Regions from separate parts of the Homo sapiens genome. Here region 2 is linked to region 1. Evidence: fine-mapped expression QTL. Tissue or cell type: whole blood. Region 1 holds a variant in brackets; the other region holds the start of a gene. All regions are shown on one strand. Distances are from middle to middle.

Evidence for each region. PIP is the estimated chance that this variant, and not a neighbour inherited with it, causes the effect.
Region 2: LRRK2 starts here. The variant in region 1 is fine-mapped to the expression of LRRK2 in whole blood (INTERVAL, PIP 0.96).

Annotation. Positions count from the first base shown.
Region 1 is chr12:40,283,943-40,289,099 of GRCh38, reverse strand. It overlaps LRRK2 (leucine rich repeat kinase 2), which reads right to left. Exons shown (of 51, transcript NM_198578.4): 19 at 4,967-5,157; 20 at 1,561-1,749. Among named protein-coding and RNA genes, the nearest start is that of LRRK2, 62 kb to the right of the region's middle. The variant T/C (reference allele first, on the strand shown) is at 3,031.
Region 2 is chr12:40,222,666-40,227,822 of GRCh38, reverse strand. LRRK2 (leucine rich repeat kinase 2) reads right to left here and starts at 2,826. Exons shown (of 51, transcript NM_198578.4): 1 at 2,541-2,826; 2 at 2,183-2,268. The coding sequence starts at 2,691. LRRK2-DT (LRRK2 divergent transcript) reads left to right here and starts at 4,001. Exons shown (of 9, transcript NR_186757.1): 1 at 4,001-4,164. It overlaps LINC01779 (long intergenic non-protein coding RNA 1779), which reads left to right and starts at 2,920. Exons shown (of 1, transcript NR_186584.1): 1 at 2,920-4,747. RefSeq lists an enhancer at 1,413-1,502 and a silencer at 2,701-3,060.

The DNA.
Region 1 (5,157 bases):
CATTGACACACCACACACAAAAATCAACTTAAAATGTTTTAGACCTAAATGCCAAAGCTGAGATTTTAACACTTCTAAGAGAAAATATGGGAGAAAATATTCACAAATTTAGGCTAAGAAAAGGTTTCTTAAGTGGGATACAAAAAGCACAAACCATAAAAGAAAAAAACTGGAAAACTGCATTTCACCAAGATTTAAAACCTCTGTTTTGTTAAAAATAGAATTAGTAAAATGAAAAGACAAGCTATGACTGGGAAAAAAATATGCAATACATATACCTGTCACAACTTCTATCTAGAATATACAAAGAACTCTTATATAATAAGACAACCCAATTAAAAGCAAAATACTTCAACACTTCACACAAAAATAAGAATGGCCAATAAGAACATGAAAACATCCTCTACATAATTAGTCATCAGGGAAATGAAAATTACATCTAAATGAATTAAACCTCCACTAGAACAGCTAAAAGTAACTTGAAAATACCAAGTACTGACAAGGATGTAGAGCAACCAGAATGCTCATGTACTGCTGGTGGGGGTAGAACATAGTACAATCATTTTGGAAAACAGACACAAAAGAGTACTCACTGTATGATCCTATGTATATAAAACTAGAGAAAACATTAATCTACATTGTCAGGAAGCAAATGATTGCTAAGGGTCAGGGGGGCCAGGGGAAGGGGATGTTTTCAGTGAAGAGGCATGAAGAAACTTTTTTGGATAATGAAAATATTGCATAACTTAATAGCGACAATGACCACATGAATATGTTAATTTTCAAAGCGCATGAAAATATATACTTAAAGTGAATGCATTTTATTTTATATAAATTATATATGTATATAAATCACTACACTTGATTTTTAAAAATGGTTTGACTTGAGACACAATATTTTGGAACAACTCTCATTTTTTGCCCTCTCAAATATCCTTATTCTATCACCCAGTGTTTTCAATCATACTATATTAATAAGAAAGCCCCTCACTCCATTTTTACCAAACTGCTAATGCTAAATACATCAGCCCTAATCATTGTCATTATATATTTCACCATATTAATTTTTTAAAAAGTTATCTCAAGTGAGCTATTAAAATATTAATATTGTTTTAAGCTATAGTAAAGATAAAAACCTTTTTTATTAAGCGCTTCCTGTTTGCCAAGCATTGTTGCAGACATTTTACATACATTTTTTCTAATTATTATGTATAACCCTGCAAAGTCGACATTACTACCTTTAACAAGGTTAAGGGGCTTACACAAGCCACGAAAGGATCTAGTCAATGACAGAGCGTGGAATCTCGTTCCAGTCTAGTCAGAGTTTGTTTCCTGGAATATTAACCATTAACCAATTAGTATAACATTTAGAAGCACAGAGACACACTTCCTTGACCCATCACTTTAACCAAAATTAGTAAACTTAACTGTTTGCGATAATAAACACATTTCTACTCAAGTTTTTCCAGATGATTTAGGTCAGGTTTTTGTCTTGGGTCCTATTGTTCAATGTCAGTGTGTAAATATAAAGCATAAAGGGTTTTTTTTTATAATAAATACCTTCACTATCCAGGTCATCACTTTGAGCAAACACACTGTCCATAGAAGAGTCAGGAATAAAGGTCCATTCATCAAATTTAGACAGCACATCTTCAGAAAAATTTCCATCGCTGCCTGAGGCTGTTCCTTCTTCCACAGCACTTTTCATCTGATATCTGATCACCATTCTTGCTAGTGTAGATGCTATATCTGAAAATAAGAGATACACCAGCAACTTAGAAATCAACAATTATGCAAAAATAAACATACATAGGACCAAAGTTCTTACGTATTGCTATGCTTCTGGAGAATATTTCTATTTTTCCTTTCAAAGTCACCTTACACTAGTGATCCTGAATAATTAACAGGTGGCAGATCATATATTTTTTAAAAAAACATAACCATGTACACAATGCTTTCATGTAGACAGCAAAACTGAATCTCTATGGAACTAACTTTATTCAGGAAAAGGCCTAGGCTTTGAAGCCAGACAGGCCTGTGTTCAAGTCATAGAAATGCCATTTGTGAGTTATATGAGCTCCCTGGGTATCAGTGTCCTCACCTGGAAAATGAAGATGATAATAAATACAGTATATGGTGATGAAAAAGAGTAATTGAAATGATGCATATAAAATGTTTAGCACAATGCATAGAACACATAAACTGCTAAATAAAGGATCTTGTTATTTTTATAAAGTTTGCTGAGTGATTCATTATGACTATTGGGAAACCTGATGGAATTTCAAAGTTAACATTCTTCTCACAACTTCATTACATTATGTATTAGCTCTACTATGAAGAATAAGTTGGCTGAGTCCTCATTGTTCTACATACAGCCAGGAAGATTTCTTCAAATATTACTACTGTAATGACTTCAAATATTACTACATGATACTGCTGTATCATGTAGTACAATATCCAGTGATGAGTTGGCTAATACAATGCTGGTTAGGCCTCCTACTGTAAAAAGGAAAATAAACCCTGGGGCTCAGAGCATGGTGGGGGATCATTTGATATTACCCCTGTGAAGTGTAGATAATCAGCTAAAAGACTTTGACAACAGTAGGAATAGCAATAATTATAGTAGCAGAGTGAAGTATGCTCATGTATCTACATCTATTCCTACTGTAAATATGTGGTGGACCCATATGATAAACCCCAAGAAGGCAACTGATACTATGGCTTACACTATACCCATATACCCAAATGGTTCCTTTTTCCAGAGTAATATGTTATGATATGGGAAATTATCCCGAAGCCCGGTAGGATGAGCTCACACACAAATATGTCACTTAGGCAAATACTACCTGAAAAATGTTTGAAAGCTATGACCCAAAGTGTTCTTTACTCAGACCAGCTGCCAGTGAAATCATGGTTATACCCTCCAATTAATCAAATGACAATTCTATGTTTTTTTAACTGGGTAAGATGTGTCAATGGTAAAAACTCCAGACAGAACAAAGAGAATATAGTGAATGATAAATCTCCCTC[T/C]GTCCCTCTCCAATGGGCCCACAATTCCTCTCCATCGGATATTGAAGATTAAAGTAAGCAGGTTTTTGGCATAAGACTAGTTTAAGTAATGAAACATGGGATCTAACCATGTCTCAGTAATTTCCAAAGACCCAGAGACAACCAGGGAACCCATTTCTGGAGGGTTTTATTTCATATTCAAACTTTTATAACTATCATATTCCAGTTGCATTTTCATCAACATTAGCATAGTAAAAACACTGTCTGTGCCCTTTTTTTTGCCACGGAGTAATGTAATCTTTATCAGGACATTAAATTTGCTCCACGTTTTTTTTTCCTCAATGATTGCAAAGCATTCCACAACATGTATGTACCATTATTTATTTGAATAGTTCCTTTTGGGGAATACTTAGGTTTTTTTCCTACTCTTTTGCTATTATAAACAATGTTTTAATGTGCATTTTTGTACATAATTTTTGTGCACATTGAGAATGTCTGTATCATAGATTCCTAACAGTACATTGTGAGGTCAAAAAAGTATGTACATATATTAAAAATATTAGTAGATATTGCCAAATTGTCCTCAAAAGAGGACAATTTAAATTCATATCAATATATGAAGCATGTTTCCACACATGCTTATCAACATAATGTATTACACAATTTTTATTTTTTGCCAATATTGAATACTTAATTCTAAATGATAATCTACTATGTGCAAAACACTAGTATCAATGGTAAGGTTACAACCATGAACAAAATTGACATTGACTTCATGGTACTAACAATTTACCAAAAAGTAGATTATAAAAATGAAAAATTAAATTATATAATGTGGTGAATGGTAGTATATGTGAGAAATAAAGTGCTATAGGGTCATGTAAGAGAACCTTCCAGACTGGTGATAGCACTGAGACAGGAAGAATGAAGAGACAGCCAGGTGAAGAGAGAATTTAGAGCTAGGTAGAGAGAGAGTAACACTGGAAAAAGACTGGAAGTAAGGGTACACGAAGTGTTTGAGAAACCGAGGAAAATTCAGCCTGATTGGAACTTTTGGAGCCTACTGAGCGGTTGGAAACCTTGATGTATAAAGGCACCAAATTGCATGGATGGGTACTTTTCTCTAGCAGCACTCAGTTTTCTTGGTGAAACTGAGGGAAAAAGTAGACTGGTAGACTGACCAAAACTGGTGTTTTGCTAGTGAGTGCATCATAAAAATGAGAGAAGCAAACATGTTACTTGCAAGATGGTCCTTAAGGTGTTGATTCATGGAGTTTGATGACCATGGGGAAGGAGATGGGCATGGGACTAAGTTAACACAGGGAAAGCTGGGAGCTTTCACGCTAAAAACACATTTAGTGTGAACAAATGAGAGAGCTCAAAAGATAAAAATAGTGTCAGAAGATGGTAACTTACCATCAATACACATAATATGTACAAAATACACATGAGCTTGAAAGTATAAAGAAAATGCATTATCAATTGAAATATAAAGTATATTCTAAGTTAAAAATGCCAAATAAATATGTGTGTATGCTTTTACATACATTTGAATGCATAGGTACATGTAAGCATATAAAAAGTTAGGAAAAATATCCATATTAATTACTTATAAGAGATAAAATAAGTTATTTTTATTTTCTTTTTTATAATTTTATATTTCCTTTAAAAACAGGGATATCTTACTTTAATAATAAAAAATATATATTAAAAAGTACCCCTTCAAAAAGCTTCCACTATTTTGCTCTATTTTTATAAATAACTATTTGCTATCTCATAAAGAACTTAAATGTCATTTTGAAGTATTTCATAGCCAAAAAAAAAAAAAATCCAAACCTTTGCAATATCTTTGGCTTAAGGTCCCTCAAACTGGCATGAATAACCACTAAAAGACTAGTGACTTAAAAAAATACTATTAAAAATAAGAATTGTAAAAAATATTCTCCTTGTTACTTACTTGTTTGTTTCCTTAAATTAGAAGTCTTATCTGGAAATAAAGGACCAAGCCAAGAAGGTTCAACTTTTCCTATACAAAATCCTCCAAGGCAAATGCTATTGTTGGCCACATCCAGGGCCAGCCTCCTTAAGAGCAAGCTGATGATCTGGCTGTCACCTTTCCCAATGCTTATCGTCAACGCTTTTCGTACA
Region 2 (5,157 bases), 61 kb after region 1:
CTGGGAGGCTGAGGCAGGAGGACTACTTCAGCCCAGGATTGCAGGCCTGCAGTGAGCTTTGATCACACCACTGCTCTCCAGTCTGGGCAACAGAGTGAGACCCTGTCTCTAAATTAATTACTTAACTAAAAATAAAAGAAAATGTGGTATACATACACAATGGAATATTATTCAGTCATAAAAAATGAAATCCTGTCATTTGCAACAGCATGGGTGGGACTGGAGGTCATTAGGTTAAATTAAATAAGCCAGGTACAGAAATAAAATATTGCATAATCTCACTCATATGTAGGAGCGGAAAAGGTGGATCTCATGGAGGAAGAGAGTAGAATGGTGGTTACCAGAGACTGGAAATGAAAGGATGGGGAGGGATAAAGAGAAGGTGGTTAATGTGTACAAAAATATAATTAGATACAAGCAATTAAGTTAATATTTAATAGTATAGCAGGGAAATTATGGTTAATAATTCATTGCATATTTTAAAATAGCTAGAAGAAAGAAATTGCAACGTTGCCAACACAAAGAAAAATGTTCGAGGTGACGGATATTCCAGTTACCCTGATTTGAACATTACACATTGTATACATGTATCAAATAGCATATGTATCCCCAAAATATATACAACTATGATATATCCAAAAAAGTAATTAATTACTTTTAAAAAAACTCTTCCTTATTTTCCAGCATACTTTGCCTCTGGTACTCTCTAGGCAGAAATACTAAGTGACACTCATAACTACTCCGGACAAGTATGCTCAGGCTTGGGCAATTTCTAAAATTAAGAATTAGGAAGTATGTTCCAGGCTCCCCTGGGTTGTCAAGTATAGCACTGCCTTATCTAGACCCTGCAGACCAAAACGCCTACCCAGGATCTGACTGTCCTGAGCAGTATCAAGCAGGAGTGACTCTATCAAGTACAGAGTCTAGGGAATGAAGGTGGCCAGAATCAGGCACTTCTGAACACCAAAGCAGAGACAAGTAAGAAGGGATGACGTGGGTGCAGAGCAGGAAGCACAATAGGCCAGTGCCCAAAAAGTGACTCATATTCCACAGGCAAAATTCCGACTTTGAGTCTTAAAAGAACAGCATCTTTATTATGCCTCCATCTTTTCTTGGTTTGGTTTGATAGCAGCGTGAAAATCTATAATAGTCAGATGGAAAATATTTCACAGTTGAAAACAAATTAAAATATTTCTTCCAGATGTAAATGTCCTCATATCAAAGAAGCTAGATGGTTCACCCAGACTAGATACAGCTAGATACAGAGATAAACATCAAGATAAAGATAGACCCACACCACTTTAAAGATTGAGATGCCTCATGTCTGTCAAGCCTCTCAACCATTAAGAAACATTGGCTTTCTGACTGCACCTCCAAGGAGTTCAAAGTCCAATTCTCTTTCTCTGCATGAGTTAACATGCAGATGACAAAACTGATTTCAGTTCCCCAAATCTCTAAGTGCTCCGAAGGAAGTTATCACCTTGGCCTATAATTTTGTTTTGACTGTAAATCATTCTTAATTACCATTTTTAAGGCCCCCTTTAAAAAAAAATCCAAGATACATAGCAAATTTCTGGGTTTCCTATGGTACAGATTGTAAAAGTTTCACTTCTACATGCATTTTATATGACAACAGTTGCAAACTATGAGGGTCTCATAAGACATCACTTTCTTTAGATACTACAAGGTATACTACAACTAAAGGCTAGAAATCTTTGAATTTTAAAAAGTGCTGAACTCTACAAGAGTTTGCTAGTGACAAAGTTGCATTTTATCACTATTAATTATTCCCCTTTTCCAAACTATTCATAATCTTCTCATCTAGGACATGCTCTGTATTGGGAAGATACTTGGAATAGTCAAGTCTAAACACTAATGAATTCATCTTGCCAATAACGAGACTAAAACCGAACCCATTTTTATCCTCCTTCTACCACCATCCATACTGTTGGTTTTATAAAGTTACTTCTTAAAGACACTCAGGGAACACATACTGGGGCTCTTCATCCCGTTTACATTGCGTAATGATTTAACAATATTCCCATCTTAAAATCACAGTCAGAGGTTCCTCAAGCCAAATTTTGGGAATAACCAAGAACTCTCGGCTATATTAACATTGCCAGTAAAACGTCTCCTTCCAAACAGAAGGGAGAATGAGTTGAAGTGAAAACAATGCCTTTACCTGCTGCACACTCGCGACTCTCATATAGGAGTCCAAGACGATCAACAGAGGCACATGGATATTTTTGCCTTGAAATAACTTGGAGGCTGGAAAACAAGTGGGTGGGGAAAAGAAGCAAAGTCACAATCCACAGCACCCCCTCTCCTTTTTAGTCTGAAACGGGGAGAAAAGTCAAAAAGGTGAAGACCTTCCTGAAATTCTCAGCTGCTTTCTGCCCTAAGGAAAGGATATGGGAGTTTGCGGCTCCTTAAGAGTCCGGGTTTGAGCAGGGTCAAGGGGAGGAGGACAAAATTTGCAAATGTAAGGAGGGGGAGAAAGTTTGCAAAAATAAAAGCACAGTTTATTTTCAAGTGATTACCGCGCTCGGAGTACGTGAACACCAGCAGATCCTCCAGGATTTGGACCAGCGTTTCTATCTGTTTTCCTTCCTGGACATTGTTCAGCCTGACTATCAACTTCTTCAGAGTTTCCTCGTCCTCTTCGCACCCCTGACAGCTGCCACTAGCCATGGTGGCACCTGCTTCCAACCCGCCGCCCTCCCAGCATGAACGTCCGCTGCTCAGGGAACCGGCAGGGGCGCCGGCCACAGCTCCCCGGGGGCGAGCTCAGCTCACCGCCCGCAGCCAGCGCTCCCCGCGGGCCCCATCGGCGCCCACGCCCGCCTGTTTATGAGGAAGGAGGCAGCTCCCCGCCCCGCGTTGCCCTCCCTCTCCGGAGCCCTCCTGCTCGGCTTCCTCCTCCCCCACTCAGGCCCCAAAAACGAGCTCAGGGGCCTGCCAGAGGCTCCGCCGAGGCGACGGGCCGCGCAGAACTCTGGCGGCGGCCGTGGGGCTGCTGGAGCCGGGCCTGGCTGGGATGACCGTGACCGTGGCCCCCACGCACGCCTAGACCGGACCCCGGGCGGACGCCGCCTCCTGGGACCAGATTCCACCGCAGCGGCGGCGCGGCCGGGAGTCGCGCGGGAAGAAACTGACTCAGCGGACTCCGCTGAGTCCACAGGCCCGGAGCCCCGCAGCGGAGGCGCGCAGTGCGCAGCCCGGCCGGCCACCCTCCGCGACCCGCCAGCCGGGGATCCTGCGGCCCCACGGAAGGTCTGGGAACTGGGAGCAGGAAAAATGAAAGCCGCCTATCTCCAGATCTAAGAATAGAAATCAGGGCGCTGGGAAAAGAGGACACCGCCCAGATGGCCCCTTTTAGGAATACATTGTCTTTAGAGTTCCACCTATAGGGAGATGAGCAATTTTCCCCCAAAGGATGGAAAGAGGGGTTAGCCATCAAAACTGCCCCCGCTACTCTTTTTTATGATTTTTTGTGACTGTTAGTGGGAGAGGAAATAAACATTGTTTCCCTGTGAGTTATCTGAAGCTCTGGTCACCAAAAGGCCACTAAATTAACTTTTGGAAATTTGAGTTGCACTAGGCAGGATCCTGATACTTGGGACACCCGAAAAGTAATCAGCTCTCAGAGCTATTAGAGCTGAGACAAAGGACAGGGTACATGAAATGAAAGGTGAAAAGTTGAGAGAAGCAAACCTAAATACTCTTCTCTTGGTATTCAGAAATACTTATGAGTATGGGTGTCTATAACCCCAAAGTTTTTTGGTTTTGTCTTTTGATTGTTTGTTTGTTTGTTCTGTTAAGTACCTAAGTAATGTGTTTTTAGGAAAAGAAACCTAGCAAGAACATTGTAGACAAGGCTAGGCAAAGATGATCTATCCTTCAGGTGATGTGTCTGTCCTCAAGATCACTTACAAAGAAGAGGATTGGACTGGAAGTTACTACTTCACAATTTTAGTTTTGTTTTCACATCTGTTACTTCAATCCTGATGACAATTCTGAAATGGATACAACTACTACTATGTATCCTTCTTTCACTAGTGAGGAAATTGAGATTTGGAATTGAGAAGTGAAGAGCTTTGCTGGAGTCACACAGGTGGGAAGTTGAGAGCCAGGACTTCAACCCAGCAAATCTCCTAACTCCAGGTAGAAGGTTCTTCATGCTCTACCACTTTAATAAGAATGCTCTAGACTTTGTTAATACATTAGATTAGTAAGATAGCAAACTCCTACTCAACCTGGATATTGGGTCTATGTCTTGTTGTTATAGAGTCTTTAACTTTTACAGAGACATGCTAAAATATTTATAGTTGAAATGGTTAGGATTTCTTTCAAAGTCATCCAGTGGTGGAGGAAAAGATGAAATGTGTGGAGATAGAGATAACGATAACAACTTTTGAATTGATAATTGTTGAAGATAATATGAGATGGGTTCATGTGGTCTGTTCTACTATTGTATCTATATAAAATTTTCCATAATTTAACAAAAAACTCCCAATCTTACAATATTTATCAGACCTACAGTGTATTATTTTCTAAGTTGTTTCTAAACTTGTTTCCATTTCTGATGACTTAATCAATGTCTCAAACATTTCTAGGCATTCTCCATCTCATGCATTCCTTCTGTTCCTCTGCATTAGTTTCTCCCTTCCTGTTCTACTGAATTACAACCTTGCAAGAAATTAAAACCTACCTCCCTTCCAAAGAAAAATAAATCTAAATTAAAAGATGTCTCCTAATTTCCACAATTCATTCATCCATCTATTGCCTATTTATTATCTACTCTATATTGGCCAGACTGTGAGTAGACAGTGTGAAAATATGAATTATTTGTTGGGAGCATTCTCCCATGAACTACTGCAGTGTTAAGGTAAAGTATTCTCTTAGTTTTCAAAAATGTTTAATTGATTGACTGAAATTCCAAGATTTATCAACTCTTCAAGTAGTTAACAAGACTGAAAATGAAGATTAAGGCATGAATTTATGATGGAAGCAGGGTTCAGTGGAGAATAAAATGGTGCTAGAACATTTGGCTAATTTCCTGAAAAGAAAAAAAATAAAACTGACATTACTAATTACAGCAAACATCAAATAGATTAAAAAGTTAAATAAAAATAACTTCAAAAATAAAATATAAAT